Linked DNA regions of Homo sapiens: regions 2, 3 and 4 are each linked to region 1. Evidence: fine-mapped expression QTL. A gene starts in region 1. Each other region holds a variant in brackets. All regions are shown on one strand. Distances are between the middles of the regions. Region 1 holds the start of GPR157 (G protein-coupled receptor 157). Region 2 overlaps GPR157 (G protein-coupled receptor 157). Region 3 has its middle 17 kb from the start of SLC2A5. Region 4 overlaps MIR34AHG (MIR34A host gene).

What was found.
Region 2: its variant is fine-mapped to the expression of GPR157 in atrial appendage (GTEx, PIP 0.92).
Region 3: its variant is fine-mapped to the expression of GPR157 in blood mononuclear cells (TOPMed, PIP 0.98).
Region 4: its variant is fine-mapped to the expression of GPR157 in monocytes after R848 (Quach 2016, PIP 0.95). The same link has a PIP of 0.9 or more in monocytes, monocytes after LPS and monocytes after Pam3CSK4.

What each region holds. Positions count from the first base shown.
Region 1 is chr1:9,125,906-9,134,008 of GRCh38, reverse strand. GPR157 (G protein-coupled receptor 157) reads left to right here and starts at 4,907. Exons shown (of 4, transcript NM_024980.5): 1 at 4,907-5,364. The coding sequence starts at 4,982. RefSeq lists enhancers at 3,030-3,119, 3,410-3,529, 3,550-3,619 and silencers at 4,321-4,640, 4,701-5,050.
Region 2 is chr1:9,096,895-9,104,992 of GRCh38, reverse strand. It overlaps GPR157 (G protein-coupled receptor 157), which reads left to right. Exons shown (of 4, transcript NM_024980.5): 4 at 359-4,688. The coding sequence ends at 574. Among named protein-coding and RNA genes, the nearest start is that of GPR157, 28 kb to the left of the region's middle. RefSeq lists an enhancer at 1-894. The variant A/GAACTCCTGGGCTCA (reference allele first, on the strand shown) is at 4,182.
Region 3 is chr1:9,082,624-9,090,726 of GRCh38, reverse strand. It overlaps a transcript of SLC2A5 not described here and LOC124900441. Among named protein-coding and RNA genes, the nearest start is that of SLC2A5, 17 kb to the right of the region's middle. The variant G/T (reference allele first, on the strand shown) is at 4,454.
Region 4 is chr1:9,160,271-9,168,373 of GRCh38, reverse strand. All of the region lies in intron 1 of MIR34AHG (MIR34A host gene), which reads left to right. Among named protein-coding and RNA genes, the nearest start is that of MIR34A, 13 kb to the right of the region's middle. RefSeq lists silencers at 3,560-3,609, 5,380-5,449, 5,600-5,669 and an enhancer at 4,120-4,449. The variant A/G (reference allele first, on the strand shown) is at 4,354.

The DNA of each region.
Region 1 (8,103 bases):
ACCAGAAAACACAAAAGGGAACGGAGAGTATGATTCCACTTACATAAAGCTCAATGACAGGCAAACTACACTGTTTTGTTCAGGGATGCAAACATGGATGGGTAAAAGCAAGAGCCTCCAGTGGTGGCTCCTGTCTGTAGTCCCAGCTACTTAGGAGGCTGAGGCCAGAGGATCCTTTGAGCCCAGGAGTTAAAGACCAGCCTTCGCAAAAAACAAAACAGAAAAACAGCAAGGAAATGACTGAGGGGGAAGGGGTGTTTGGGGAGGTTTGTGGTACGCTGGTAATGTTATATTTCTTGCTCTGGATGGCTGTTTATAATTATTTAATAAGTTGTACATTTGTATTTTAGGCACTTTTCAATATGCATATTTCGTAAAACAATTTATTTTTATTTTTATTTATTTTTTTTTTTGAGACAGAGTTTCACTCTTATTGCCCAGGCTGGAGTACAATGGTGTGATCTCGGCTCACTGCAACCTCCGCCTGCCGGGTTCAAGTGATTCTTCTGCCTCAGCCTCCAAAGTAGCTGGGATTACGCCCTAAATCCATGCCTGGCTAATTTTGTATTTTTAGTTGAGGTGGGGTTTCACCATTTTGGTCAGGCTGGTCTTGGAACTCCTGACCTCAGGTGATCTGCCTGCCTTGGCCTCCCAAAGTGCTGGGATTACAGGTGTGAGCCACCATGCCCAGCCTTTATTTTATTTTTGTATGAGATGGAGTCTCACTAAGTCGTCTAGGCTGGTCTTAAACTCCTGGCCTCTCAAGTGTTTCTCCCATCTTAGCCTCCCAAAGAGCTGGGATTACAGGCCACTGCGCCCGGCCAAAATAATTTTTTTAAAGTTAGATATACAAAGATAATCTTTGCTTTCTATGAATCAAATGCAAGATCAAACCTAATGTACACCAAAAACTACAAAACATCACTAAAAGGAAGTTAAAGAAGAGCTAAATAAATGGAAAGACATCCTTGGTCCATGGATAAGGAGATCTCATATTATTAATATAGCATTATTCTCCACTTTTATCTACAGAATCAAAGCAATCTCTATCAATCTTTTCCATTCCTCTTGCAGAAATAGAAAAACGGATCCTCAAATTGATAGGGAATCGCAAGGGGCGTCAGATAGCCAAAATATTGGAAAAGAAAAACAATGTTGAAGGGTAGGGTGCGGTGGTTCATGCCTGTAATCCCAGCACTTTGGGAGGTCGAGGCGGGCAGACCACTTGAGATCAGGAGTTCGAAAACAGCCTGGGCAACATAGTGAAACCCTGCCTCCACTAAAAATACAAAAATTAGCCAGGCATGGTAGCGGGCGCCTGTAGTCCCAGCTACTCGGAAGGCTGAGGCAGGAGAATCGCTCGAACCTGGGAAGCAAAGGTTGCAGTGGGCCAAGATCAAACCACTGCACTCCAGTCTGGGCAAGATAGTAAGACTCTCCCCAAAAAAGAAAAAACAATTTTGAAGGACTCCCTTCCCAATTTCAAAACTCACTACAAAGCTACAGTAACCATAACAGTGAGGTATTGGAAAGAAACAAAACATAGATGCAAACCTTCATGAGTTTGGCATAGGTGATGGTTTCTTAGATGTGACACCAAAAGCACAAACAACCAAAGAAAAAAATGGACAAATTGGACATACTCAAAAAACACTTTTTTCCTTTGAAACATGCTATCAAGAAAGTGAAAAGACAAACCACAAAATGGGAGAAAATATTTGCAAATCATATAGCTGATAAGGGTGTAATAGCTAGAATATATAAAGAACTCTTGCAACTCAACAACAAAAAGACAAACCAATTTAAAAATAAGAAAGAAAATTGACCAGGTGTGGTGACTGACGCCTGTAATCCTAGCACTTTGAGAGGCCGAGGCGGGTGGATCACTCTAAGTCAGGAGTTTGTGACCAGCCTGATCAACATGGTGAAACCCCATCTCTACTAAAAAGACAAAAATTAGCTGGGCGTGGTGGCTGGCGCCTATAATCCCAGCTACTTGGGAGGCTGAGACAGGAGAATCGCTTGAACCCAAGAGGCAGAAGTCACAGTGAGCCAAGATCGCGCCATTGCATTCCAGCCAGGGTGACAGTGCGAGACTCAGTCTCAAAAAAAAAAAAAAAAAAAAAAAAGGAACAGAAGAAAGAAAGAGAGACAGAGAGAGAAAGAGAGAGAGAGAAAGAAAGAAAGAAAGTTGAACAGACATTTCTCCAAAGAGGATATGCAAATGTCCAATACACACATGGAAAGATGTTTGAGGGCATTATTCATCAGGGAAACGCAAATCAAAACCACAATGAGGAACAACTTCACACCCACTAGGATGGCTATTATCACAAAGATAATACAAAATGTAGGAAGGCTGGGTGAGGTGGCCTCACGCCTGTAATCCCAGCACTTTGGGAGGCCAAGGCAGGAGTTTGAGACCAGCCTGGGCAATACAGTGAGACCCCATCTCCAAAAAAAAAATTAGTGGGGCCCAGGCAAGGTGGCTCACACCTGTAATCCCAGCACTTTGGGAGGTTGAGGCGGGCAGATCACCTGAGGTCAGGAGTTCAAGACCAGCCTGGCCAATACAGTGAAACCCTGTCTCTACTAAAAATACAAAAATTAGCAGGTTGTGGTGGTGCACACCTGTAATCCCAGCTACTCAGGAGGCTGAGACAGGAAAATCGCTTGAACCCGGGAGGCAGAGGTTGCAGTGAGCCAAGATCACGCCACTGCACTCCAACCTGGGCAACAAGAGCGAGACTCAGTCTCAAAAAAAAAAAAAAAAAAAAATTAGTGGGGCATGGTGACATGCACCTGAAGTCCTAACTACTGGGGAGGCCAAGGTGGGAGAATTCTTAAGCCTAGGAATTTGAGACTGCAGTGAGCTGTGGTTGTACCTGCACTCCAGCCTCGGCGACAAGACCTTGTCTCAAAAAAAAGTTTTGGAAGAATGTAGAGAAATTGCGACCTTCATTGCTAGTGCAAATGTAAAATGATATGTACAGTCACTTTGGAAAACACCTTGGCAGTTCCTCACAAGGTGAAATATAAAGTTGCGTATGGCCCAGCAACTCCATTCCTAGGTATACACATAGGAGAATTGAAAACATACACCCACAAAAAAACTTGTATGCAAATTTTCATAGTGGTATTATTCTTAATAGTTAAAAAGTGTTAACAACCCAAATGTCCATCGGCTGATGAATAATAGCTAAGTAAAATGTGGTATATCCTGCCGAGCGCGGTAGCTCATGCCTGTAATCCTAGCACTTTGGGAGGCCAAGGCAGGCAGATTGCCTGAGCTCAGGAGTTCAAGACCAGCCTGGGCAACACGGTGAAACCCCACCTCTACTAAAATAGAAAAGAAATTAGCCGGGCGTGGCGGCGTGTGCCTGTAGTCCCAGCTACTCGGGAGGCTGAGGCAGGAGAACTGCTTGAAGCCGGGAGGCAGAGGTTGCAGTGAGCCGAGATCATGCCACGGCTCTCCAGCCTGGGCGACAGAGGGAGACTCCGTCTCTAGAAAAAAAAAAAAAAGGTGGTATATCCATATAATGGAATATTACGGGGCAGTAAAAGGAATGAAGCACTGCATATGCTACGATGAACCTTGGAAACGTGCTAAGTTAAAAAAGTCAGACATAAAGGCCACAGAGCATATGAGTCTATTTACAGGAAATGTGCAGAATAAGCAAATCCACGGTAGAAGAGTGGTTGCCAGGGCTGTCGGGGAGAACTGAGGGCTAACAGCTGAGGGATAAGGATTTCTTTTTGGGAGTAATGACAATGTTGTAGAATTACATAATAATGATGGTTGCACAAACTTGTGAACATACTACTGAATTGTTCGGTTAAGAGGGCCAATTTTATGGTATGTGAATTACATCTTAATTACAAAGTTTGAAATTTTTAAAGAAAAAGCCATGCCCTGCCTAGCATTTCATTTTTTAAAAATCACACCTAGTTAGCTATGGTTTTTAAAAAATAGCATGCTTATTTTAAGAAAAGGTGGAAACGCCGGCTTCCCCAAGTCACCACCAACTTGTGAACACGTCGGGATCACGGCTGAAGGAATGAGGATCATACCCGAGAGCTGTTTCTGTTGCTAGTGGAAAGAATGCCTCTGATCCTCACGCCCTTCCACTCACAACACACACAGAAGCTGGCTGAAAAGAGGGAAAGTAATATTAGCCCTAAAAATGCCAGCCCTTCCTCTCACAGGACTGGATGTCCCAGACACCTGGCAAGAGCAGGGGTGGGCCTGGAGGAGCGTGGAGGGACAGGTGCTGGGACCTGGGGGTGCCCTGAGGTAGGGCTTAGGGACCTAGGGGCTTAGGGGCGTGGTGTGAGGGCGTGGGCGGGGCTCAGGAGCCTCGGGCACCGGGTGGAGCTTGGAAGCCTCAGGGGCGTGGCGGGGGCGGGGCTCAGGGCCCGGGGCAACGGGACGAGGAAGGGCACCTGAGCCAGGGTCAGGGCCCGGAACACAGGGGTGTGGCGGGGTGCGTGGGCGGAGCGGGGCGCGTGGGTTAGGCTCTAGGCCCAGGTCTCTGGGCCCTGTGGACAGGGGATCGGGGCGCGTGGGCGGAGCTCTAAGTCCCAGTCTCAACGCGGGGGCACACGGGCGGGGGGGGGGCGTGTGGGCGGGAAGGGCATGTGGGCCGGGGGACGTGTGTCCGGGGCTCGGATTGTGGGCGGGGCTCAGGGCCTGGGACGGCGGGACGGGGCTGGGAGTGTAGGCGGGGCTTAAAGGCCGGGGTACCGGGGTGGGGCGCGGCGCGTGGGCGGGGCTCAGGGCCCGGGATATAGGGGCGGGGCGCAGGGCGTGGACGGGGTTCAGGGCCCGGGGCCCAGATGGGCGGGGGAGCGGCCGGACGCGGGCGGGGCGGGCGCCTGGACGCGAGCCTAGGGCGCCTCGGTGCCCAGACGGCGGCGGCGTGGCCGCACGCGCGGCCCGGCTTCTGTCCTCGCGGCGCTCCGGCTCCTGGCCCCCCACGCCATGCAGCCGTCCCCGCCGCCCACCGAGCTGGTGCCGTCGGAGCGCGCCGTGGTGCTGCTGTCGTGCGCACTCTCCGCGCTCGGCTCGGGCCTGCTGGTGGCCACGCACGCCCTGTGGCCCGACCTGCGCAGCCGGGCACGGCGCCTGCTGCTCTTCCTGTCGCTGGCCGACCTGCTCTCGGCCGCCTCCTACTTCTACGGAGTGCTGCAGAACTTCGCGGGCCCGTCGTGGGACTGCGTGCTGCAGGGCGCGCTGTCCACCTTCGCCAACACCAGCTCCTTCTTCTGGACCGTGGCCATTGCGCTCTACTTGTACCTCAGCATCGTCCGCGCCGCGCGCGGGCCTCGCACAGATCGCCTGCTTTGGGCCTTCCATGTCGTCAGGTGGGTGGCGGTGGCGCTGCTTTTCCAGGAGCCCCCGACACAGGCCGACCCCTCCCGGTCTTGCCCTCCCAGAGGCCGCGTCTAGGTTGGACACCCCCTACCCACAGCAAGCAGTGCCTGCTGGCGCCCCCGAGGCTGTCCTGGGCCAGCGGGAGGAGGCCAGCCTTGCCCGAGATTCGCTCCCTCCCGAAGGAGCCCCGCTGTGCCTGCCCCAGGGCACAGCCCCTTGGGGTAGTGGGGACAGAGTTCGCCCCCAGAGCCGGGCCCTGTTTCCTTGGACGGGGCTGGGGAGGACACTCTGAGCCCCTTGTGACCTGCTTCACTGTGTCCTGGCTGTCTCTGCTGCCCATGGGGAAACAGGCTGGGAGACGAGTTAGGTAACTGTCCCGGGCTGGAGAGCCGGCAACTGCCAGTCCCACGCCACCACCCCACCCCAAGCCACAGTGAGCTTGGTGCACTCCGCCACTCCCGAGCTGCCGTGTCTCTGCTGTACAGTTTACAAAGGACTGTGCTTTTTATTCTGTCTTTGGTCGTTTCTAGCCTCAGGCCCCAGCCCCTTGTATTTCTGTTCTAGATGATCTTGACTTTCCAGAGTTCAGCAATTCTGAGATTGAGGGCAGGGGCGGAGGGCTGGTCTGGGAGTCTCGGAGTCCTCCTGGAGTCTCTCTGAGAGTGGGGAAAAGCCAAGACCTTACTTTGCGATTCAAGCGTCTTTCAAGTAAGCCTCGCTGAAGAGGGTCGGCCCTTCCCTGGGGAATGTCAGGTTTTGAAAATCTCATGGCGTCCTGTGCTGTGCTGAACTGAGGGCAGGAATCCTAGGGGCTGTTTTCCTTTTCTCCTTCTCCCAGATCAGAGCATCAGATACTGCCCTAATTATAGGTCCTTTCTATTAAAAACTTAAGTGCATTCCAAGGACTGCGAGCACAGTCAGCACTTTGGCAGAGACAGGTCACCTGGGTGTCACACGGCAAGGCTACAGGGCTGTAAGAGTCGCTTGACCTTCAGTTGTGCACTGAGGCCGGCTGGTCCTTGAGAAACTAAGTGACCTGCTTCTCAGCTGTACAAGTAAAAAATCTTTGCAACACATCATCCAAACCGAGGCTCAGATGCTGCAGATGGAATAGGGCCCTGCCTTGCCTTGCCTTCCCGGCAGCATCCCATCTGACCCTGTCTGGGTCCCGTGATGGCTGGCTGGGTGTGGGCCCCGAGTACACGGGAGATCGTGTGTACTTGGAAGGAGTCGAGGCTGTACCTCTCTTTGCAAGAACCTGTTCTCTTTCCCTTCTTGTCTTTAAAAATATTGAATACAGTATTTTTTTAATGGTAACAGAACCTGGTCCAGCTTCTGTGGAAAAGAAGGATTGCCCAGCAAACCTGAGTTGGGGGTTTTTCTGTTCGGTTCTCATTACGGACCCTCTAGGGGGGTTTCTGTGTTGTTCAGGAAGGGCTTCTTTGATAAAGAAGTAGGCCCAGTGTGGTGGCTTGTACCCGTAATCCCAGCACTTTGGGAGGCCGAGGCAGGAGCATCGCTTGAGCCCAGGAGTTCAACTGGCCAACACAGTGAGGCTTTGTCTCTACTAAAAATTTAAAAATTAGCTGGGCATGGTGGCGCATGCCTGTAGTTCCAGCTACTTGTGAGGCTGAGGTGGGAGGATCGCTTGAGCCTGGGAGGTCGAGGCTGTAGTGAGCTATGATTGCAGACAGAGCAACACCCTCTCTCAAAAAAAAAAGAAAAAAATTTTTAAAAAATGAAGGAAAAAGAAAAGAAAAAACAAGCAACGTATTCATCTTGTCTGTTGAATGTGACCTGCCTGCATCTTAAAAGAAAATAAAATTATCTGTATCCAAGCTAGAGAGGGAGTTTGACAATTTATTCTCTGGAGTTCTCAGCACTCAGACTTCGCTAGTCTAAGGGAATTGGTTAAACCTGCCTAACAGGTTCATCTGTTAACCTAGATCTTCCCAGACTGTATTGCCAATGACCTTACTAAGGACTCTCCAGTGTATTTCTTTGGAATATTAGTTTATTGTTTGCAGGATCTATTGATGTGAGAAATATCACCTTCAGGCATAGACTACATGATTATCCACTTTTTAACCATTTCATACTACTGGAATTCAGTCCTCTTCAAAGCTTTCAGTTTTAGAAAGTATTTTAAAATACGACAACACAGAAGGTTGACATCCTTATTCTAATGTGCGTTTAGGAATTGAATTGTTTTAAACCCACAAATATCCTGAAAAATGGACAAAGGACATACTCAAGCAAAATAGTAACAGCAGTTGAAAAAATATGTCATATACCATTAATATGCAAAGCAATACAAGTTATAACAGTAAGGTACCATTTCCTCATTTAATTTGAAGGAAAAAAATAGTAAGGCAGAGTTGGGCACGGTGGCTCATGCCTGTAAATCCCAGCACTTTGGGAGGCCAAGGTGGGCGGATCACTTGAGGTCAGGAGTTTGAGACCAGCCTGGCCAACATGGCAAAACCGCGTCTCTACTAAAATTACAAAAATTAGCTGGGTGTGGTGGTGCGTGTCCCAACTACTCAGGAAGCTGAGGCAGGAGACTCGCTTGAACCTGGGAAGTGGAGGTTGCAGTGAGCCACGATCGCGCCACTGCACTCCAGCCTGGGTGATAGAGCAAGTCTCCATATCAAAAAAAAAAAAAAAGGCAGAATACAAACATGATAAATGCGAGTTTCACTGGCATTTTTCTACAGTATTATTGATGG
Region 2 (8,098 bases), 29 kb after region 1:
AGTCTGGCTTTGTCACCCAGGTTGGAGTGCAGTGGTGGGATCTCGGCTCACTGCAACTTCCGCCTCCTGGGTTCAAGCGATTCTCCTGCCTCAGCCTCCGTGTCGCTGGGACTACAGGCGCCCACCACCATGCCCAGCTAATTTTTGTATTTTCAGTAGAGACAGGGTTTCACCTTGTTGGCCAGGCTGATCTTCAACTCCTGACCTCAAGTGATCCGCCCACCTCAGCCTCCCAAAGGGCTGGGATTACAGGTGTGAGCCACCGCACCCAGCCTAGCCGTTTCTCTTAATTGCAACAGCGCGTGTGTTTCTGAGACCAACTCCAGCCCCATGCTCACAGCTCCTTTTCTCCCGACAGGGTATCGGGAACACGTTTCAGGGAGGTGCCAACTGCATCATGTTCGTCCTCTGCACCCGCGCCGTCCGAACTCGGCTCTTCTCTCTCTGTTGCTGCTGCTGCTCTTCTCAGCCTCCCACCAAGAGCCCGGCTGGCACTCCCAAGGCTCCCGCGCCTTCCAAGCCAGGAGAATCTCAGGAATCCCAAGGGACCCCAGGGGAACTTCCAAGCACCTGAGCTTTTGTCCTTTCTAGTTCTGTGCATAGGTGCTGCCTTCCTGGGGGTAGGCACTTCTGTGAGTCCCTGCTGCAGGGGCAGAAGTGCATGTCTGCTGCACCAGAAGCCCCCGCTATTGATGCTCTCGGCTCCATTGGGAGAGCAGCTGCCAACTCAGCTTCTTCTACCTCCTAGATCCTCAGGCAGCAAGTTCCACCGGTACCAGCGTCCTGGCCCACGGGTGGGCGTTCATCTGCATAAGGGTAGCAGTGAGATTCGGGAAGCCGGTGGCCCACAGCTGTGGCCACAGTGCCCCCACCCAGTGGACCTTGATGTCCTGAGGACCACACAGCACTGTTTACAATCTGAGGGACCCACATCTGTGCACCTATCCTCTGTGTGATTAAATAAGCTGTCAGGGGCCCTCAGAGATGTGTCCCCATCCACACATCATGGAGCAGATTCCCGGCTGGTCAGGGTGTTAAGATTCTCTGGAGAACCCGGCTTTCCTTGGAGACTTTGCTCAACAGAGGAACCAGTTGCCATTCACCAGGTTGAAGGTTCCCCTGAGGTTGCATGGTGACCACCAGGGGCAAGCACAGCCCGGCGCAGCTGCTCAGGGACAGCAGTCTCCCCGGGCCTCCTGGCCTCTCCCTCCATGGGCTGCTAACCCTTGCCGTAGCTTGGGTTTGAGTGTCAAGCACAGGCCAGAATCCACACTCCTGTCCCCACCTGTCAATCACTTCAGACACAGGTTCCCTCCTTCCAATTCCAAAGCTGGAACAAGGGCAGGAAGAGGCGTCTCAGGGAACCCCCGAAGACCCCACTGTCTCTCCAGCTCCTTTCTTAGAATCCTCCTCTTCTTGGGGAGACCAAAGGGGATGAGTAGGGAGGGGTTCTGGCTTATTTACTTCTTAGTTTAGTTTTTTGTAAGTAAAGTGGCCGGAGAGATGAGTAATCCAAATACGATTCCTCAGGCCGGGCACAGTGGCTCACACCTGTAACCCTAGCACTTTGGGAGGCCAAGGCAGGCAGATCACCTGAGGTCAGGAGTTCAAGACCAGCCTGGCCAACATGGTGAAACCCTGTCTCTACTAAAAATACAAAAATTAGCCAGGCATGGTGATGCACGTCTGTAATCCCAGGTCTTTGGGAGGCTGAGGCAGGAGAATCTCTTGAACCTGGGAGGCGGAGGTTGCGGTGAGCCAAGACCACACCATTGCACTCCAGCCTGGGCAACAAGAGTGAAACTCGGTCTCAAACAAACAAATACGATTTCTTCCTAAAGGTGAAGGTTTTAAGCTTCAGAGTCAGTTTTTTTTTTTTTTTTTTTTTAAAAAAGGAGCCTCATTCTGTCGCCCGGAGCTGATGTGGTGGTGCGTGCCTGTAGTCCCTACTACTCAGGAGGCTGAGACGGGAGGATCCCTTGAGCCCAGGGATTTGAGGCTTCATTGAACTGGGATGGCACCACTGCCACTCCAGCCTGGGCAACAGCAGGACCCTGTCTCAAAAAAAGAAAAAAACAAAGGATTCAAAAGGATTCAGCTGTTTTGTATTCAGCTGAGGTAAGTGGCGGCATGGAGCATGGAGCGATTATTTACATTTAAAAGAAAAGAATTGAAAGTAAGCACCTGTATCTCTATTTTTATTCTGTGGGTCTTCCACAAACGCTTTCGTCTTATTTCAGAAAACAGCTTCTGTGTTCAGTCACAGGAGCCATCGGCAAAGAATGGAAGTGGAAATGCTACCTCCAGGGTCTTGGTGAGAGAAAGTACAGCTTTACCTGATAGGTGATTTCCCTTGGAATCCATCAGAACTCGACAAAGCATGATTTTCTGAGCCTAGTAAAATGGTTCTGAATCAAAACCGAAGTCACGCTGTGCTGCCGATCCCTGTTTGACTCTCAAAACCAAAATCTGTATCAGGAAAGGAATAATCATTTAGCAGACTGAGTCCAAAATGCTCATTTTTGGTTTCCTGTGAAAATGGATTTCTTTTTGTCGCTTTCTTTTTTTTTTTTTTTTTTTTTGAGATGGAGTCTCACTCTATTGCCCAGGCTGGAGTGCAGTGGTGCAATTTTGACTCACTGCAACCACCGCCTCCCAGGTTCAAGCGATTCTCCTGCTTCCCAATCCCAAGCTGCTGGGATTACAGGCATGCGCCACCATGCTCGGCTAATTTTTTGTATTTTCAGTAGAGACGGGTTTTCACCATGTTGGCCAGGCTGGTCTCGAACTCCTGACCTCAGGTGATCCACCCACCTCAGCCTCCCAAAATGCTTCGATTGCAGGCATGAGCCACTGTGCCTGTCCAAGAAAACAGATTTCTTGATGGAAATTAGTGAGACAGACATCCCCTTAGGATTGAAAGAGAGCTCTGGGCTGCTCCAGGGAAAGCCACTTGGCAGAAATAGCCTCTGTAAGTGAATTCTGGATTCCCCTGAAGACGTTACAGCAAATCTCTGGGTATGTCTCTGGTAAAGACCCTCACTTGAGCTTCTAGAAGGGAGCGAAAATTCAGGAATTTGCTTGCTGCAAAAGAGAACATGATTAACAGGTAAAAGAGAAAAGACAATATAGGCCACAGAGGAATAGTGTTAGGATCAACCCTGCTCAGCAGGGGCCTCTGGAGCCCTCCCTGCTGTACCCAAGCCAGAGCTGAGACATGGCTCCCCAGATGGACTGGCTGTGGTCAGGAAAGGCCTGTAGAGGGAGCTGAGGGCTCAGAAAATACCTGCTCCGGGTGCCTGGGCTCAAGTTCTCATTCCATTTCTTTGATGCCACTGGCCACTGTATCTGCTTTTGTAAAAACCTCCAAAAAGTTATACATCAGGTATCTCTAGTCAGCTTCCTCCGCTGCCCACCTCTTGCCACAGATGAGTGATCACTGTGAATGGTGGTGACCAGGTGGGCAGGGCAGGGGCTTGTCTAAGTGCCTTAGCCCAGGCCCCTGGCCCATCGACCTCGAAAACAGCAATATCGCCTCCTTCTTAGATCCAGTTACCAAGTCAGTCTAGCTGGGTGGGTAGTGCTCAGACAGAAAGGCTGGATGGGAAGGAAGTCACATCCTAAAAGTCCAGGAGGGGGCCAGGCGCAGTGGCTCACGCCTGTAATCCCAGCACTTTGGGAGACCAAGGTGGGCAGATCACCTGAGGTCAGGAGTTTGAGACCAGCCTGGCCAACATGGTGAAACCCTGTTTCTACTAAATATACAAAAAAAAAAAAAATAGTTGGATGTGGTTTCGTGTGCCTGTAGTGCCAGCTACTCAGGAGGCTGAGGCAGGAGAATTGCTTGAACCCAGAAGGCAGAGGTTGCAGTGAGCCGAGACTGCACCACTGCACTCCAGCCTGGGTGACAGAGCAAGACTCCATCTCAAAAAATAAAACAAGTCCAGGAGGGGCTGTTACTTCTTTTTAGTTTATTTATTTTTGTGAGGCAGGGTTTTGCTGTCTGGAGCATCATACCCAGTCTGGAGTGCAGTGATGCAATCATGGCTCACTGCAGCCTCCACCTCCCAGGCTCAAGCGATCCTCCCACCTCAGCTCCCTGAGAAGCTGGGACCACAGGCCTGGCTAAATTTTGACTTTTTGTAGAGACAAGGTTTTGCCATGTTGCCCAGTCAGATCTC[A/GAACTCCTGGGCTCA]AGCGAGGGGCTGTTACATCTGATCAGGGCAAAAGGGGCTGTGCTCCTTGGACACTTTGCACAGCCCCAGTGGGCTTCTTTCTCCTCTGTTAGTGTGGTTAATGTTCATCTGCCTGCATCCCTGAGTCACCCAAGTGTAACCTCAGCCATAACACGTACTGCAGCCGGAACGGTGTCCGCAGCTCAGCGTCCCTCTCCCATGCACTTTCTGAACTTTGGTCTTTTAACCAGGTTTACCAGCCGCTTTCTGCCTCTTTGTGCTTTTGAGGGTTTTTTGGTTTGTTTGTTCTGTTTTGTTTTTAAATAAAGATGATTATTTGGCCCAGGCTGAGGGTGCAAACAGAACTCTTCACGTGTCCACGACAAGAAAAATAGTTTTTACAAACTTCTAGTTGTGGCATCAAAAGTGTGAGTTTTTGCACCTGCAAAATTGTAATGCAAGCCCTGACTGGGTGGAAGCTGAAGTCTTGCTGTTTTAAATTAAATAAATAAATTATTTTTCTCCTATGTGTTTGGTAAAGTGATTGCCTCCTGATGTGTTGTGCAGGGTGGGGAGGGGGCGGTTGCAGGACAGGTGGCTCGCATTGGCCTGTGTTGCTGTGGTTCCAGAGCCTACCATGAGGCTGAGACCTGGAGAAGACAGCTCTGCCCTTCTCTCTTGGCAAATTAGCTAAAGAGGCAGCCGCCCTGTTGGCATAGCCAGCTTCCCCTGAGTTGACCTAATAAAGATCATGGGGGTGGAGAGATAGGGAGAGGGTTTTAGAATACAGATTCCTGGGCTTTGTCCACAAAGTTGGTGCTTACCAGGGGAATGAAAGGCACTCCTATAGCAGGACCCTAGTGTAACCGCCCAGTGGGTTCACCTTGCCTGCTGCCTAGATAGAGCCGATGAGGGTCAACAGGTCCAAGTTCCAAGCACCCATGACTTGGGGCTGAACTTGATTAAGAGAGATGCTCCAGGGCTGAGCTGCTGACCCCTTCACCCTTCATGCATGGTTGTATCACACACAGGGTGACCCGCCGCAGCTGCATCTGCAGGCCTCCTGGTGGTCAGGGACTGCTGGGACACAGGGTCTCTTCTTGGAAGGGAGCAGCCTTCCAAACGCATCTACTGGAGCTGGCTGCCTTGCTGCGTGACTTGCAGATCTGCACTGGCCATGCAGCCCCACCTCCGGTCATAGTTTTCTTGAAACTGCTCCGCCTTGGGAATTTTGCTGCCAAAAGCTCCTAAACTTTCTTCCACTGTCTGGATTTTGTGCAGTTAAAACTGCATTGAGGAGAATGGCTTGAACCCGGGAGGCAGAGATCGAAGTGAGCCGAGATCACGTCACTGCACTCCAGCCTGGGTGACAGAGCAAGTCTCAAAAAACAAACAAAACAACAACACAAACTGCATTGAATAGCCCCTAGAAGTGGCATCTTGAATTTGGTTATTAAGGTACAACATACACAAACTTAAGTAATATTAAAATAGCAGGCCTGGTCCTGCTACTTCGACGCGACCACCCTGAGGTTTGTTAACTATTCTCTCCTGCCTTTGTCTTTGCATCTCTAAACTTGATGCTATGTGCTTACCTGGGAGAAAATGGAAGCATCCCCTTGAGGCCCTCTCCTGTGACCCTCCACTCATCAACTGCCATGCGCCTTTCCCTTTCCATCTGTCTCCCCTCAGTGACCTTTTTTCACCTCTTCCCTGACCTCTTCTCCGGAGTTCTCTTCGCCTTCCTCACCCCAGCAAATGCAGCATGCATTCAGAATCCAGGCTCCGTGTTCCACACTGCTCCACACCACTCCACACCGTTCCCTCTTGCCTGACCTCCTGCTTCTGCCTATATGCAGCTCACACCCCACAGGGTCACCTCCTTCTGCTCCCATAGACTTCTAAGCGGGTCTTTGGGATGCCACAGTCTCTGCAGAAACCATACGTTCCAGGGACCACTCTACCAGGCATTTTCCCCAGAGCCTGCCAGGCTCCTGGCACAGAGTCAGGCTGTATCCAAGGGTCAGCCCAGCATGCAGCTGAGGCTTAGGCCTTGCACATAGGAAAAGCTCCAGCAGGGGAAGCTTTGGGGGCAAGGTGGACCACTTTCTGAATGAAGCATGCGTGTCTAGTAACAATTACTCACCTGTGGGAGGAGAGTCCAGAATCCAGGCTCCACGAGGAAAAGGATTTGCCAGATGTGGTGGGGTCAGGACGTTGTCACTAGCTAATAGCTGGCGTTTCCTGAGTGCTTACCCTGTGCCAGGCCAGATATGAAGTTGCCCTTCTGCGGGCAGGATCCTGGAAACTGCACGGGTCACAGGCCCATGGAGTTGGCACTGCCTGTACACAGGACAAAGCTGGTGCTTACCAGGGAAGTGAAAGGCACTCCTATTGCAGGGCCCTAGTGTAACCGCCCAGTGGGTTCACCTTGCCCGCTGCCTAGACAGAGCCGATTTATCAAGACAGGGGAATTGCAACAGAGAAAGAGCGATTCACACAGAGCCAGCTGTGTGGGAGACCAGAGTTTTATTATTATTCCAATCGGTCTCCCAGAGCATTTGGGGATCGAGTTTTTAAAGATAATTTGGTGGGTGGGGAGGGGCCAGTGAGTCGGGAGTGCTGATTGGCTGGGTCAGAGATTAAATCATAGGGAGTTGAAGCTGTCCTCTTGTGCTGAGTCAGTTCCTGGGTGAGGGCCACAAGATGAGATGGGCCAGTTTATCGATTTGGTGCCAGCTGATCCATCAAGTGCAGGGCCTGCAAAATATCTCAGGCACTGACCTTAGGTTTTACAATAGTGATGTTATGCCTAGGAGCAATTTGGGGAGGGTCAGAATCTTGAATCCTCAGCTGCATGACTGCTAAACCATACTTTCTAATCTTTTGGCTAACAAGAAGGGGATCTACCTTGAGAAAAGGGCTGCTATCTTCTTTTTTCTAAACTATAAACTAAGTTCCTCCCCAGATTAGTTCAGCCCATGCCCAGGAATGAACAAGAACAGCTTGGAGGTCAGAAGGAAGATGGAGTTGGTTAGGTCAGATCTCTTTCACCGTCTCAGTCATAATTTTGCAGTGGCAGTTTCACTAGCAGGGTCTCAGAGTAGGAGAGAACAACATTGGGGTATTTATTCTTTTTTTTTTTTTTTTTTTTTGAGACGGAGTCTTGCTCTGTCACCCAGGCTGGAGTACAGTGGCACGATCTCGGCTCATCGCGATCTCCAACTCCCAGGTTCAAGCAATTCTCCTGCCTCAGCCTCCCTAGCAGCTGGGAGTACAGGCATGCGCCACCACACCTGGCTAATTTAATTTTTGTATTTTTAGTAGAGACAGGGTTTAGCCATGTTGGCCAGGCTGGTCTTGAACTCCTGACCTTGTGATCCACCTGCCTCTGCCTCCCAAAATGCTGGGATTACAGGCGTGAACCACCACGCCTAGTCCATATTTTTGAAGATCAAAACATATAGTTTCAGATGAGTCTTTCAGCCTTCTTGGGATTAGCAAGTCGTGATGTAATCCTTTCACACATGTGAGCACAGCATGATGAGGATTTGCTGGTGGCTAGTTGAATGAGTTTTGAGTCTAAGCTATCATTGGATGCTTTCTATTGAAGAGCTGATGAATCTTTCCAGGAAGTTCCTGGAGTGAACCATAAAGTTATTTGCAGCAGTTGTCTTGCAGGACAAGAATCTCCTGGGCATAGTGAAGTGATATTGATGAAGGCAGCCGTGTGTTTATCAAGTCATCTTACAGTAGACAAGCTGAGGGGATGGCTTTGATTCTCCAAGGAAACGAGAAGCAGGTGGGTCCCGACGACCAGGTTTGTGAACGACGAGGCTCTGGAAAGAGAGAGACTGAGTTCCAACTATGGCTCCATTGTTTATTATACTTGATCTTGGCCACAAGGCCGAGAAGTGGACTCCATCTTTTATTTATT
Region 3 (8,103 bases), 43 kb after region 1:
CTGTGTCAGGATCAGTCCAAGTGAGAGCAAAAAGATTTTGAGAGGAGGTATGTAGAGGGATAGTAAAAAAGGCATCTTTAAGGCTTATTACAGAGAAGTTGCTAGTGTTGGGAGGAATTCATGACAGGAGGTTATAGGGGTTGGGGACAACAGGATAAACAGGAACAAAAGCGGAGTTGATTTGTCGCAAATCCTGATCCAGTCTATAGGAGCCATCCTGTTTTTTAATTGGGAGAATAGGATTATTGTGGGAAGAATGGGTGGGGATTAAAATATTGGCAGCCAAAAGTTGAGAGATGATGGGCTTGAGTCCCCGTAATCCATTCAGGATTGAGGGGATATTGTAGGACCACTATATAGTGCTTAGGATTCTTCAGTGAAATTTGGATTGGAGAATGGTGGGTAGCTATTATGCAGAAGTCAGTGTTCCATACTATGGGGTTTACTTGGCTGAGGAATTTGGGATTTAAGTCTGTTTGATGTTGAATGTCTGAGGAGGGGTCTGTTCTTGACATAATAATATATAAGAGTGGCTTTGGTTTAGGGCCAATAAATGAATGATTCCCCCTAGTTTGTGTAGAATGTCCCTTCTTAATAAAGGAGTGGGACAGTGAGGAATGACCAAAAAAGAGTGAGGGTGACTCCCTGAAATGAGCAGTATAGTGGCAGTGTTTTGTTTCTTATATGCCCCTCACGCCAACAGAAACGGATGAATGTTCTAATGGGCCTTCATATTCAGTTAATACTGATAGGCTCGCCCCAGTATCCAAAAGAAAGGAAGTAATATTAATGGATACTGTCCAAATTACCCTGGGTTCCATGGACTCACTAGATGTGGGGGTGAAGAATCCCAGGGACCCTCATTCCTCCATGGGCAGTGCCAGCTGTGAAGAGATTTCCTCCTGTGATGGTCAGGGGGCTTCATTATGAGTGGCACCCAAACGGGGAAGGTGTTCCCATTGGGGGCAGTCCATTTTCCAGTGTTCCCAAAGACTGCAAGTTGGGCACAGTTTGGTGGGCAGCCAGGGGTTAGGCCAAGCCTTTGGCCAGCGTCCAGGGTTGCCACATCAGAAACAGACTCCCAGAGAGGTGGGGGAGTTTCCTTTTGGGTTGTTGGGAGACTTTTGTGTAATTGACTTTTGGACAGCAGAGGCAAGCATCTGGTATTTTAAACAGAGACGCTTGCCTTTTTGAATTTTTTGTTCCTTGTCTCTGTTGTTAAAGACACAGAAGGCTGTATTTAGGAGATCCCACTGAGATGTCTGGGGACCCTCCTCTAATTTTTATAATTTTTTCTAGATATCTGGGGCAGATTGGGAAATAAATTGAAGGTGGTGAAAAGTTTGACCTTCTCTAGATTCTGGGTCCAAATTGGTATGTTTTAGCATAGCTTCAATGAGGTGTGATAAGAAAAGGGTAGGATTTTCCTGGGGCTCTTGTGTAATTTCTCTAAGTTTTTCATAATTAGCTGCCTTATGGGCATTTTTGTCCATGCCCACAAGGAGACAGGTAATTGTGTGGTCTCTTTATCTGATGCCAGCATCTCCCTGTTGGTAAGTTCAGTTTGGGTCTCTATGGGGAACTGCATCATTAGCCACTGGATTTTGTATAGGGGCTTGATTATGGAGTTTATCTGCGTGTGTTTCAGCTGAACACCAGATGTACTCTTTTTCGTCAGGAGTGAGGGTGGAGGTTAGAATTATATGAATGTCATGCCAAGTTAAATTAAAGGATTGAATTATGTGCAGGAATTTCTTGCGATAATGAGAGGAGTTTTCAGAGAAAGATCCCAGATGCTGTTTGATTTGTGACAAATCAGAGATGGAGAAAAAGACATGAGCGCAAGGGATGCCTTTAATCCCAACCACTTTCCAGAGAGGAAGACTGGCAGGAGTGGCTTGACTGGCTGAAGTAGCTTTTGCTGTTGTTGTTGTTGTTGTTTTTGAGACGGAGTCTTGCTCTATCACCCAGGCTGGAGTGCAGTGGCGCGATCTCGGCTCACTGCAACCTCCACCTCCTGGGTTGAGGCAATTCTCCTGCCTCAGCCTCCTGAGTAGCTGGGACTACAGGCACCCGCCACCACGCCTGGCTAATTTTTTTGTATTTTTAGTAGAGACGGGATTTCACCGTGTTAGCCAGGATGGTCTCAATCTCCTGACCTCGTGATCCACCCACTTTGACCTCCCAAAGTGCTGGGATTACAGGCGTGAGCCACTGCACCCAGTTGAAGTAGTTTTTGAGTGGGTAACGGGTGAAGAATGTGGGGGAGAGTGGCAGTTGGCCAGATGCCGAACCACCACCAGGGGTGGTTGGCAAACTGCAGCCACCCAAGGGGCTGGAGTAGTTTTCAAACAGGTAATAGGTGGAGAAGGAGGAGGGAGGGGGTTTGGTGGTAAAGGCTTGGGAGCAGGAGGGGCCAGCTGGGTGTAGGGTTCGGGTGGGTGAGGAGTGGATGCAGAGAGTTGAGAATATGGAGGGGTTTTATCTGCAGGGTCAAAAGGGGTTTCAGAGGAGGGGTTCCAGAGGAAGGAAAAACCCAGGGAGGATTTTCATTAAGAAGAGGGATTTCATGAAGGGTGCAAGCTTGGCATAGGGAGGGTCGGGATCTAAGACAGAAGAAAGCCTGAATACAGGGAATCTCTTGCCTTTTGCTATTCCTGGTTGTAAAGTTGTTAAGGTCCCTGAGAATTTGAAAGTCAAAGGTGCCATTTTCAGGCCATCAACTGTCATTATCTCATTTGCACTGGGGCCAGGCTGTGTTGTAATAAAAAACTAAATGCTTTGGCTTTAGGTTCCCCCATAAGCCAAATGTTGGATGTTCCAGTTGGAATTGGCAAAGGGCCTCCTGGACTGGAGGCACACGAGGAAGAGAGAGAGAGAGAAGAGGAAGGAAGAGGGAGCAAGTGCTAGAGAGCGAAATACCTGTTGCGGGCAGTTGGAGGTGGATTCCTGAGACCTGAGGGTTTTGAGAGCCCACCGGAGAGTAGCCCTGGCCCGAGTCTCACAGTCCCCTTCAGATTAATTGTCCTCCTCACATAAATCGCTTGAAAAGTGAAACAAGAGAAAAGACAGGGCGGCTGTCCAGAGGCTCTCAGGATCCAGGAGTTAATTCAGGATGAGGGCCGCTGCTGCCCACTGCCTCTTGGGTTGCAAGAGAGCCTCTGCCGCCAACACCCATCCCGGGTTTTGGCACCAAATGTAAGACTTAAAGAAAGAAGAAAGAGGCCAGGTGTGGTGGCTCACGCCTGTAATTCCAGCACTTTGGGAGGCTGAGGCGGGAAGATCACAAGGTCAGGAGATTGAGACCATCCTGGCTAACACGGTGAAACCCCATCTCTACTAAAAATACAAAAAATTAGCCAGGCATGGTGGTGGGTGCCTGTAGTCCCAGCTACTTGGGAGGCTGAGGCAGGAGAATGGCGAGAACCCGGGAGGCGGAGCTTGCAGTGAGCCAAGATTGCACCACTGCACTCCAGCCTGGGCGACAGAGCAAGGCTCTGTCTCAAAAAAAAAAAAAAGAAAGAAGTAAGAAACACAAAATGTGGCTTGACAGTTAAGGACAGGTTTATTTTAGAGAAAACAAACCTGAAAGTGGCTTCTGGCCGAGTTAGGTGAGACAGCTCTTCTCTCTTACAGACCTAAGGATATTTAAGGGTTTTGAAAGAGGGGACTTATCATAGATTCGGAATGTTTCTATGTGAAGGAAAGTTTATTGTGGGGTTGGAATGTCTCTGGTCACAGGGGAGGCTGTCTTGGGGTTGGCATGTTTCTGGTCAGAGAGGGATTTATCTTAGGGTTGGAATGTTTCTGGTTATGCTGACATTAGCCATTAGGCTGATGTTTTGGGGCTGGATTTAGGGGTTTTTTAATCAAGTGGAACTTAGGATGGTGGTGTTTGCTCAAGATGGTGATGCTCCTGCTCTGTCAAGCACCAGTACCGTTTTCCATACCCTTATGATGGCATTCCAGAACCAATCAATAGCACCCATTCCCTAGTCCACTGCCCACCAAACTATCTTTGAAAATCCCTAACCTCAGCCAGGTGCAGTGGCTGACGCCTGTAATCCCAGCACTTTGGGAGGCCAAGGTGGGTGGCTTGCTTGAGATCAGGAGTTCAAGACCAACCTGACCAACTTGGTGAAACACTATCTGTACTAAAAAAATACAAAACTTAGCCAGGCGTGGTGGTGCATGCCTGTAATCCTAGCTGCTCAGGAGGCTGAGGTAGGAGAATCACTTGAACCTGGGAGGCAGAGGTTGTAGTGAGCTGAGATTGTGCCACTACACTCCAGCCTGGGCAACAAAGTGAGACTTCATCTCAATAAAAAAAAAAAAAAAAGAGAGAGAAAAAGAAAATCCCAGCCTCTGAGCTTTCCGGGAGATTAATTTGAGTGGTAACTCCCTCTCCCTTAGGGCGTGGCTGGCCTCGCAGCAATTAAACTCTTCCTTTACT[G/T]CAATGCCATGGTTTCAGTCAATTGACTTTGTCTGTGTAGCGGGCAGAAAGAACCCATCGGGCAGTTACACTTCAGGCAATGACTAAGCTGGAGAAAGAGCCCTTGAGAAAGTCCAGCTGTCATTATCCCTGCTAGTTAGCCTTTCTTCATTATCCAAGTGATCATGAAGATTGAACTCCCTGTCCCACTTCATATTAACTAGTTCCCTTCCTTTGTTCTCAGGGCCCCAGGCCCATCCTCAGCAGTCAACAGAGGACCTGGGAGGGAAGACTTATTCTTGTTGGGCAGTACCTGTTAATGAGGAAAGCATTTCCAGCAATTTCTTAGGACCATGATACCAGAGATGGGATCAGACCCTTCCTCCCTTCAGCTTTTCTCCCTGGCAGACAGCAGAACTCCCAGGATTTGCCTGGGCCCGTTGCATCAGGGAAAGCTTTTCAAATACCAGCAGATAAAACCTTTCTGCAGCCAGCACTTGTCTTGGCCTGGAGGGGAGCAAACCTGCCCCGTCCTGCACCACTGCCACCCCAGTGTAACCAAAGGTAAAATTCTAAGCCGCCCTCCCGACACAACCATCTGAATGAACTTCCTCCTCAGTCAGGGCTCTTAAAACTTAACCTGAGAGACTGTTTCAGGCCATAATGGAAGTGGGGTTCGAACATGCCTCATCAAACCTCTCCAGCACCAACAGTGACACAGACTTTAAGGCTGATAAAAAACATTTTGCAACTTATTCTCTCTGAAGCCTGCTAGCTAAAAGCTTCATCTGCATGGTAAAACTTTGGTCTCCACAACCTCTTATCTTACAGACATTCCTTTCTGTTTAATCCCAGGTCTTTAGACAAATTCAAACAATTATCAACCAGAAAGTGTCTAAATTTACCTATAGCCTGGAAGAACCCTCCCCCACCTTTGAATCGTCCCGCCTTTCTAGACCAAAACAATGTATTTCTTAAATGTGTTTGATTGATGTCTCATGCCTCCTTAAAATGTAGAAAAGCAAGCTGTACCCTTGGGCACATGTTCTCAGAACCCCCTGAGGGCTGTGTCATAGGCCGTAGTCACTCATACTTGGCTCAGAATAAATCTCTAAAAATATTTTACAGTTTGACTCTTTTCATCAACACCAGCACCACATTATCCCAGGAGGAAAAGCAGACGCGTGACAGAGTCAGAGAGCAGGCATAGAGTGCTGTGGCAGTCAGCCAGTGCCCACATCAACACCAAGGAGAGTCCTGCGGGTGCTGTGCAAGGCCGGGGTAAGTCAGTCCTGGTTGGGCACAGAGGCCTTGGGGCCGGGAGGAATCACTGATGCGCCACATTCAGGAAAAGCCTAGAGCAGAGCTTCTCGAACTTAAATGTGAGCTTGAACCACCAGGGATGTGGCCAAAATGCAGGTTCTGATTCAGCAGGTCTGGAGTGAAGTGGATTTTGCATTTTTCTAACCAGCTCCCAGGTGATGGGGCTGTTGCTGGTTTCCAGACCAACGGGGGCTGGAGGATGGTCTGGTTCCAGGGCCACCCAAGGGTGTGGCCGATGCTCACATGGTGTGGCTGCCCCCATAGGGCTGCTGGCTTCCAAAGCGTGTTTCTCAAGATCCTGGGTGAGATGCAAGATATGTTATCTGGATCTGGTGCCTGATGTAGTACCAGAGTCCGTGATGTGCTGGAACATGTTCAACAGGCTGGGATGGTGGGCCCGGGGCTGATTTATAGTGTGAGCTGATTTGTGTAATGTTTCTGATGCCAGTGGGCTAGAGGAGGTCCCCAAACGCCAGTGGGACCTTAACCGCAGGCAGTGTCCAGGCTTTTGACACCTTTGCCAGAAGGAATTCAAGGACAAGTCAGAAAATAGTGAAAGTACAGAGATTTATTGCAAAGCAAAAGGTACACACTCAAGAAAGGAGAGTTCGGGCCTACTCAAGAGAGAGTTGCACCCAGCAGGGTTGGGAGCTTCCACCTTTATGGGTTTCTTTAACCAAGGGGTGGGATATTTATGAAGATTCCTGGAAAAAGGTGAGGGTTTCTCAAAATTGTGGTGTTACCTGTTTTTATGCCAAATATGGATGTCCCAGGAACTGTCATGGCACTGGTGGATGTGGGTTTAGTATTATTATTATTTTTTTTTTTTTGAGACGGAGTCTCGCTGTCGCCCAGGCTGGAGTGCAGTGGCGCTATCTCGGCTCACTGCAATCTCCGCCTCCCAGGTTCACGCCATGCTCCTGCCTCAGCCTCCCGCGTAGCTGGGACTACAGGCGCCCGCCACCTTGCCCGGCTAATTTTTTGTATTTTTAGTAGAGACGGGGTTTCACCGTGTTAGCCAGGATGGTCTCGATCTCCTGACCTCGTGATCCGCCCGCCTCGGCCTCCCAAAGTGCTGGGATTACAGGCGTGAGCCACCGTGCCTGGCCGGGTTTAGTATGTGTTGTTTGTTTGTTTCTTTGTTTTGATATGGAGTTTCACTCTTGTTGCCCAGGCTGGAGTGCAATGGTGCAATCTCGGCTCACTGCAACCTCCACCTCCTGGGTTCAAGTGATTCTTCTGCCTCAGCCTCCCGAGTAGCTGGGATTACAGGCATGTGCCACCATGCCCTGCTAATTTTTTTGTATTATTAGCAGAGATGGGGTTTCACCATTTTGGCCAGGCCGGTCTTGAACTCCTGACCTCGGGTGATCTGCCCACCTCAACCTCCCAAAGTGCTGGGATTACAGGCATGAGCCACCGAACCCCGCAGGGTTTAGTATGTTAATGAGCACATAATGAGGTCCTACGTGAAACCTAGGTCAAATCCAGCGCTATGTTGATTCCAGTCGGCCTTAGCCAGCTTGGCCCACATCCTGTTTTTCAGGGCCCCTACTTCTGCAGCTATTTCAACAGTTTCCTTTTGCTAGTCATGCAAAACTGCTGCCTGGAATTTTCTATTCTCCTGCGACCACCCTGTATTATTCCTGTCTCATTTTCACCATGGCTGATTTCAAACCACTGTGGAGAAAAATGTGCACTTTCGTGGAAAATTGCATTGCTTCAAGCATACTCTTCCCGAATCAGCAGGGCCCTGCCCTTGCGTTGCCTTTGAGCTTACAGTTCTGTAAGTTGTAGATAAATGATGTCCCAGCAAAGTAGTTGTCTTTAAAACAATTTTTTTGAGACAGAGTCTTGCGGTGTTACCCAGGCTAGTATTGATTTCTTTTTTTTATTGGGGTGAAATTTACATAACATGAAATCAACAATTTGAAAGTGAACAATTTGGCAGCATTCACAGGGTTGCACAATTAATGAATAACTTCATCTATTTCTTCACCCCAAAAGGAAAAGGTGCCTATTAGCTGTCACTGCTCATTCCCCCTGCCCCCAGCCCCTGGCAGCCACCAATCTGCATTTTTTTTTTTTTTTGTCCTGTTTGCAGTACCATACATGATCATCGAACTGCTGCTAGAATGCCCACAGCTGTTACTGCAAATTCAAAACCCAGGAAAGACTTCTGGGAATTTACTTTAGGTCAGGGTTGGGCTGCCTGGTGCAAGATTGCACCCACAACTGGGCAGGTTCAAAAACATAGGAGCCTTTCCCCAGACCATCAATCTGCATTCTCTATGGATTTATCTATTCTGTATCTTTCACATAAATGGAATTGTACAATATGCAACCTT
Region 4 (8,103 bases), 34 kb before region 1:
TTGCTCAGGCTGGAGTACAGTGGTGTGATCATAGCCTACTGCAGCCTCAAAATCCTGGGTTCAAGCGATCCTCCCTCCTCAGCCTCTTGAGTAACTGGGACTACAGGTGCACACCTGGATGATTTTAAAATATTTTTTTAGAGATGGCCTCTCCCTGTGTTGCCCAAGCTGGTCTCAAACTCCTGGGCTCAAGAGATCCTCCCACCTCAGCTTCCCAAAGCATTAGGATTACAGGTGTGAGCCACCGTGCCTGGTCTGAATTTCTTGCTTTACATGTTAGCTGGGAAGTAGATGCCCTCAAGAATGGTGGAGCATATGAGCTGTCCCTCTAGGTCAGTCCCATGGCCACCCAGCTCCAGCCCTGTCTCTAGGTGTGTGAATCCCTTTTGCACAACAGAGAGCCTGGGGAGGTGGAAGGTCTTGGTGACACCTTGTGAGTTATTCACACTGGCTGTGGGTGACAGAGCCAGAGGTGGGAGCACAGAGCTCTCACAGCACAGAGGAGTAAGGAGTTGAAGCTGCAGAAACAATGCTGAGGCCTGAGGTGGAGGAACAGTTGTAAATGGAAAATTAGACGGCAGTTCTGCAGGTTGGAAAGTGGGTGATAAAGTGGGCGTGCAGGCACCATTCCAGGAGGCTGTGCCTTGTGTGCATTGAGAGCAGGTCAGGTGGCCAGGAGGCTCCAAGCTTAAAGCTGCCAGGTGAGCCAAGCATTTTTTTTTTTTTTTTTTTTTTGAGACAGAGTCTCCTTCTGTCACCCAGGCTGGAGTGCAGTAGCGCGATCTTGGCTCACTGCAACTTCTGCCTCCCAGGTTCAAGTGATTCTCCTGCCTCAGCCTCCTGAATAGCTGGGATTACAGGCGTGCGTCACACGCCCAGCTAATTTTTGTATTTTTAGTAGAGATGGGGTTTCACCATGTTGGTCAGGCTGGTCAGGCTGGTCTTGAACTCCTAACCTCGTGATCTGCCTGCCTTGTCCTCCCAAAGTGCTGGGATTACAGGGTGAGCCACTGCGCCTGGCCTTTCTTTCTTTTTTCTTTTTCTTTTTCTTTTTTTTTTTTTTTGAGACAGTCTCACTCTGTCACCCAGGCTGGAGTGCAGTGGTGCCATCTCGGCTCACTGCAACTTCCACCTCTGGGGTTCATGCGATTCTCCTGCCTCAGCCTACCGAGTAGCTGAGATTACAGGTGTGTGCCACCACGCCTGGCTAATTTTTGTATTTTTGGAGACACCAGTTTCACCATGTTGGCCAGGCTGATCTTGAACTGCTGACCTCAGGTGATTCCGCCTGCCTCGGCCTCCCAAAGTGCTGGGATGACAGGCATGAGCCACCACGCCCGGCCTGGGCCAAGCATTTTTGCAGTGACTTTCCTCCTTGTGAGCAGCCTCAGAGGCAGGCACTGGATCCAGAACCTCGTCTTGATCCTAACAGCCTCTGTGTGCCAGCTGCAATAGCATCCAAGCTACAGGGAAGCAGTTTCTATTTTCGCATTGGAGTCAGCGGCTCCTGCCTGCCTGGTGGGTCGCATCCTCCCATTCTTTGCTCAAACTTCAAAAGGGCCTTCCAGGATCCGCCTTCCCAGGGTACATTGAAGAGCTGGTGTTTCCCCACATCCACCCTCTCTCCCGAGGAAAGGCCGTGGTCTGAGGGGAACGGCAGTGGCAGGGGCCACCTACTCAGGGGGAGTGCAGGCAGGAGGTCTAGGGGTGTAAGATGGGCAGCCTCCCTGCTGCAGGGGGCTCCCAGCTGGAGCGTGGACTTGTTTCTCTCATTTCCTGAGGTTTGCTGGAGACAGGCGTTTGCTTAGCGCCGGGAGCTGTCTCCTGTGGTCTCTGTCCTTTGACTTATTCAGAGTCTCACTTGGCGTCGGTTTTCCAGGGTCTGGTAACCAGGATGAATGACGCATGGAGTTGCAACCCAGACTGCAGTTCAGGAGTTTCCCAAGCAGGCAAGGCTCTGTATCCCGTGAAAGGGGGTGTGGATACGAGATATTCTGCCCTTATTCTTATTTTTTCCTAATGTTCTTTTAGATTTATAAAATAAGTAATAATACTCATAAAAACTCAAACGGGCCAGACGCGGTGGCTCATGCTTGTAATCCCAGCACTTTGGGAGGCTGAGGCTGGAGAAACACTTGAGCCCAGAGGTTTGAGACCAGCTTGAGCAACATAGTAAGACCCTGTCTCTAAAAGAATTGTTTTAAACATTAGCCGGGTTGCCAGGTGCAGTGGCTGACGTCTGTAATCCCAGCACTCTGGGAGGCCGAGATGGGCAGATCACCTGAGGTTAGGAGTTCGAGACTAGCCTGGTCAACATAGTGAAACCCCGTCTCTACTAAAAATACAAAAATTTAGCCAGGTGTGGTGGCGCACACCTGTAATCCCAGCTACTTGGGAGGCTGAGGCAGGAGAATTGCTTGAATCCGGGAGGCAGAGGTTGCAGTGAGCCGAGATCACACCACGGCACTCCAGCCTGAAGGACAGGGTGAGACTCCGTCTCAAAAAAAAAAAAAAAAAAGATTAGCTAGGCGTGGTATGGTGGTGCACACCTGTGGTCCCAGCTACTAGAGGAGCTGAGGGGGTAAGATGGATGGCTGGAGCCGGGGAGGTTGAGGCTCTGGTGAGCTATGATCATGCCACTGTGCTGCAGCTCAGCGGGTGACAAAGCCAGACCCTGTCTCTGAAAAAAAAAAAAAAAAAAAGTCAAGCAATTCATATGTAGATGCAGTTAATGAGCTGGGCCTATTTCTGTCCTGCTTCTTCCCTAAGTCCCCAAACACCTCCCATATCAGCCTTGGGCATGTGTCCTTCCGGTTCACCCACTTCTTGGAGATGCTTTCTGTTGACTATTTGCTGAACTCTGTGGCCGCCCAGAAAATACTCCAGGGAGTGTGATGTGCGTCTATTTCCGGAGCCTCATTTCAGCAGGACTGGTGCCTGGTCAGGGTCTAGACCCTCCACCTCAGGGCCTGCCGTGGAGCAGCCAGAACCCTGGCTTCCCCCAGGTCCCCTAGACAGGCTGCTGTCACCTCTGCCCAGCTCTGGACTCTGGGGTCTCCCCAGATGAATGCACGGCTCCCTCTCCCCCAGGCCCTCATCGGGGACAGGTGGCCTCTGCATGTTCCACTGGTCTGGCAGGTCAAGAACTCAGATTGTTTTAACAGTGGGTGAGGCTTTTATGTATTCAGGTGAGACAACGAATGTGAAAGCTCATTGTCACCTGTAAAGCACCTACCAGTCTGCTGTGACGATGACGGGATGATGAGAACTGTCATCGCTCCTTCTCATTCCTGTGGCTTTACTGTGGGACCTTGAGAGCCAGAGCAGCAGGGGGGAGGTTCTGAGGGTCTAGAAGCCTCGGCAAGGGGCTGTTGCAGCCAGGGGCAGTCAGGCAGGGTCACCCATGCAGGGGCAGCCAAGTGGCTTGCCCAAGCTGGGGTCTATGCCTAGAGGACCCTCCAAAGATGCTGACCCCCTGAAGCCTGGCATCACCCAGGGAGGAGCTGTCACCACCATGGCCCTCTGGGCTACTAAAAACAACCTTTTGCCCAGGACTTGCAAGGAAGAGAGAGAGAGTTCTCGGTGGATGAGAACAGTTTTTCAGTGGCAGTGCTACAGACATTTGGGGCCAGATGATTTTTTGTGGTGGGGGCTGCCCTGTGCACTGTAGGATGTTTAGCGGCATTCCTGGCTTCTACCCACTAGAAGCCAGGAGCACTCCCTACCCTTCAATTGTGATAATCAAAAACGTCTGGGTTTTTTTCTTCTTTTTTTTTTTGAGACAGAGTCTTGCTCTGTCACCCAGGCTGGAGTGCAGTGATGCGATCTTGGCTCACTGCAACCTCCACCTCCCAGTCTCAAGTGATTCTCCTGCTTCAGCCTCCCAAGTAGTTGGGATTACAGGTGTGTGCCACCATGCCCAGTTAAGTTTTGCATTTTTAGTGGAGATAGGGTCTTGTCATGTTGGCCAGGCTGGTCTCGAACTCCTGACCTCAAGTGATCTGCCCGCCTCGGCCTCCCAAAGTGCTGGGATTACAGGCATGAGCCACCACACCCGGCCCCAAAAATGTCTTTAGATATTGCCAAATGTCCCCTGGGTGACAAAATCATCCCCCAAACTGCTGGATTAGAGGCTTTGGAAATGGATTTTCTGTGACCACTGCTTCACCATTGTAAGCTGCCTCTCATTTGGGTGCAGTTTTCTTTGTTCCTTTTCCAAAAAGCTGACCTCATCGGGCCCATTTGTTTGTTTCGTTGACTCACCCAGTCTAACCGCAAGCAGCCTTCCTCCTCTGGGGGATCCCAAATGACTTATCATGGGACTTTGTATGTAAATTTCAAAGATTATTTTCT[A/G]CTAAATCAGAGGCAGAAATCCTCAACTTCTTTTTTAGCAGCCTTGGTAAATACTTCCTTAGAGTGTTTAAGGGGCGTGCCGCACTCCTGCTGGTGGTCTGATTGTGAACACCTTTGCTGTTCAGTTCCCTGAAATCGCCAAATATTTCCCTCTCCTTTGGGTCTCAGCCCAGTGACTAGCGGATGATCTAAGGGCCAGGGCGGTCTGAGTTGGCTAGTGCACCGGGGATTTTCTTAAGGCCTTTGACCCGGGGACTGGTGTGGGAGGAAGGCAAAGGCCTGGTTGTTTATGAGCAAGGAGGAGTCAGGTCCGAGGATGGAGCCCTTCGGGGTCACTGCCCTGGGCCCTGCCCCTCTCCTGCACATCAGGCCCCTTGGACAAGGCCCGTGTGTTTGCAGGACCCTCTTGGGGCAGCAGAGCAAGGGCTGGCTTTGAGAGAGAGCCTCACTTTTTTGTTTTTTTTTTTTTTTTTTTTTTTAAGTAGAGACGGGGTTTCTCCATGTTGGTCAGGCCAGTCTTGAACTCCTCACCTCAGGTGATCTGCCCTCCTCGGCCTCCCAAAGTGCTGGGATTACAGGCGTGAGCGACCGCGCTCGGCCAGGGCTTCACTTTCAAGCTCAGTGCTGCTCTGAGGGGTGGACACAGCCCTGATGTCAGTAGCTGAAGACCTGCCTGGCCACACTCAGCAGCAGTTAGCCTTCTCCTCCCGCGCCCCGTGAACAAGGCTGTACCCTGGGAGGTTGGGCTCTGTCTGAATTCCATCACAGGTCCTCTCCTGGGCCTTGCCCTGCTTTGTTGCCTCCTTAGGAGGATGTCTTCTGGTTTCCTAGGAAGGGCTTTATATCTTAACATCCACCCTGCATTCAAAACCCAAGTTATCAAGACCACAGGGCACCACAACCCTCCTCTTGGCCTTGCGGTTTCTATTCTTCAGTGACTCCCAGAGGTTTGGCTTGATTGGCAGCTTAGAAGCACATGATTGAACTTGAGCAGTGGTTGAAACTCAGAGTCAGATGCCTGACCCGCCCCAATCCCAGGCACAGAGTCTGACCTCACACCCAGGCTGTGCTGTGTACTCAGTTGTTCAGTATCGACTTGAGCTTGACGGGCATCAGGGGCCAGGGAGTGAAAGGGAAGAGAAGCCAAATCTGGCTGCTAAGGGCTCTCAGTCCTGGAGGGCAGGAAAATAGTGGCCTTGCCGCTAGACCTGATGCCACCTGCCCCTCCAGCTGTACCCCCTCAACACCTTGGGTAATACCTCAAGCCCCACGTCCTCTTCCAAGCCAGATAGGACCCCAAGTGCTGGGTGATCCTTATTGAAGGGTAGGGACAGGAGGGACCCGTGGGATTGTGTGTGCTCAGAGCGGAGTTCAGGGGCACCTGAGGGCAAACTGTCTCTTTGCTCCCAGGGCTGTCCTCCGTGCCTTTACCTGTGCTGGGCCCTGGCAGAGCTCTGAGTCTTCTGGATTCCAGCGTCCATAGTAGCTAGTCTGTCCACTGCTGGAGAAAAGCTGCTTTCCCAAAATAGCCACCCAGGGGGAAAGAGCAGCCCTGGAATTTGACCCTGACGATCACCGTGACGGGGCTGCTGGCCCCACCTGGCCTGACCTCCACGACATCACGGAAGGACTGTTGGTTAGTTGTGGGGGCCAGGATTTTTCCTCTGTCCCCCTCCCCTCTTCTTCTTCCCTTTCTTCTTTCTCTCTGCCAGCTTCAGGTTTGAAATTCCAGTGACACCGAGGGAGATGCTCCAGTGCCTGTCCGGCTGGGGGGCAGGTCACATGGTGGGAGCAGAGAGGGGAGGGCACTTGTGCGCCTGCACCTCTTGGCAGGTGAATGCACACCTATGGAGGGGCCTGGGTGCTGGCAGCGAGCCCCGCTCCCTGCGGCTGTGCCAGGCCCAGAGGCGGCAGCGAGCCCAACAGGTCAGACAGGTGGAGCCAGGCTGGGGAAGCTGCAGGACCAGAGCTGACATCCGATCAATCCAAGGTCCTTCTTTGGCCCACAGAGCAGGTAACCCACCCTTTTCTTTCTTTTTTTTTTTTCTTTCTTTCTTTTTTTTTCTGGTTTAATTCACTGACAACTTTAGGGAACATTTACAACCCGAGAAAAAGGCCATTGAGATTGGGGGGCAATCGCGAATTGTTTGGAGAGGGATTTGTGGTGTTTTGTGTGGAGGAAATTTGGCCTCGGCATTAGAAAAGCATTTCTAATTTTCAGGTCTTTGATTCTGAAAGCAGATTTCTTATGGAGCCTGGGTGCTGGGTGGCATATTGGGGAGGCAAAGCCCAGAAGCCATGAGGGTTTTCCTGTGACTGCTGATGGAACACCGTGGGAGGCTGTAGTTTGGTGGCCTGTTTGCCTCCATAAGGAGGGGTTGGGGCAGAGACAGGGTGGTCGGGGGACTGCTCCGCGACAGGACTTGGCTGTATGGGGGAAGCTCTCCCAGTTCCTATCAGAGAAACACGTGGAGGGCTGGACTCCCTCCAAAATTCAAATTTATGCTACAGGCCCTTACTGGGGCTGGATTTTACTTGGAGATTGTTTGGAGTTTTGAAATCACCTCTCCTGGTAAGAAGACTCGGTCTCCTGTGTTCTTGCCCCCTCTGTATCTTGGCCAGTGATGGTTCCCTTAGACAAATTGATGGGGGATTTCTGGCCTGAGGACAGGAAGAAAAGGAGCCCAGGTCTGTTTCAGTGAAGAACAAGCCCAGGACACCCCACCTGAAACTAGGACTAGTTTTGCCCAGTTTGGCATCGTTGAAAACGCATTTGCCCTCTTCCTTGAACCAGGCTGTGCCTTCTTCTATCTGTTTCCCTGCCATGGAACATCACCCAAACATTTTACTGGGAAGGGGAGGGGTAAGAGCAGATACAATGCTTGTCTGAAACCCCCGTTGCATGGCATTCTTTGCAGGGACAGGACAGGGGAGCAGTTTTTGCTGTTACCGAACCCTTTGTGACAGAGATGCTGTTTGTTAAGTGATTTGCTTTTTTACAAAAAAAATTCCAAGGTAATTGATGATGACACAGTTGCTTAGACTATGGAATATACCAGTTAGGATTCCTTCAGCTGCAAGTAAGAGAAAACCTTACTTAAAATGACTTAATCAGAACAGTAAACATTTTTTAAGGCTAGGTGCAGTGGATCACGCCCATAATCCTAACACTTTGGGAGGCTGAAGCAGGAGGATCCCTTGAGCCCAGGAGTTCGAGACCAGCCTGGGCAAACAGGCAGATGTGGGGTATCTCTACAAACAAACCAAACCAAACCAAAACAAAAAAACTAGCCAGGTGTGGTGGCATGCACCTGTGGTCCCAGCTACTCAGGAGGCTGAGGTGGGAGAATCGCTTGACCCCAGGAGGTGGAGGCTGCAGTGAGCTGGGATTGTGCCACTGCACTCCAACCTAGGCAAAAGAGCAATGCACTGTCTCAAAAATAAAAAAAGTAATAAACCAAGTAGTCCAGAGGTAGGGCAGCTTCAGGACAGGTGACATCCAGGCGCTCAGTAATGTCAAGGACTTTGGTTCCCTCCGTATCTCTGCTCTGCTGCCCTCACCCCACTGGCTTCATTGCCTGCCAGTTCCTCTCCCATTGGGCTCCTCCCGGGGTCTCCTCATGAGTGAGGAAGCCTTTCCCAAAGCCCATGCTGACTTTCTCACACACCTCATTGGCCAGAATTGGGTCTTGTGCTCAGCCCCAAACCAATCAGTGGCAAAGGAAGGGATGACCTCGAGGACTTCATGAG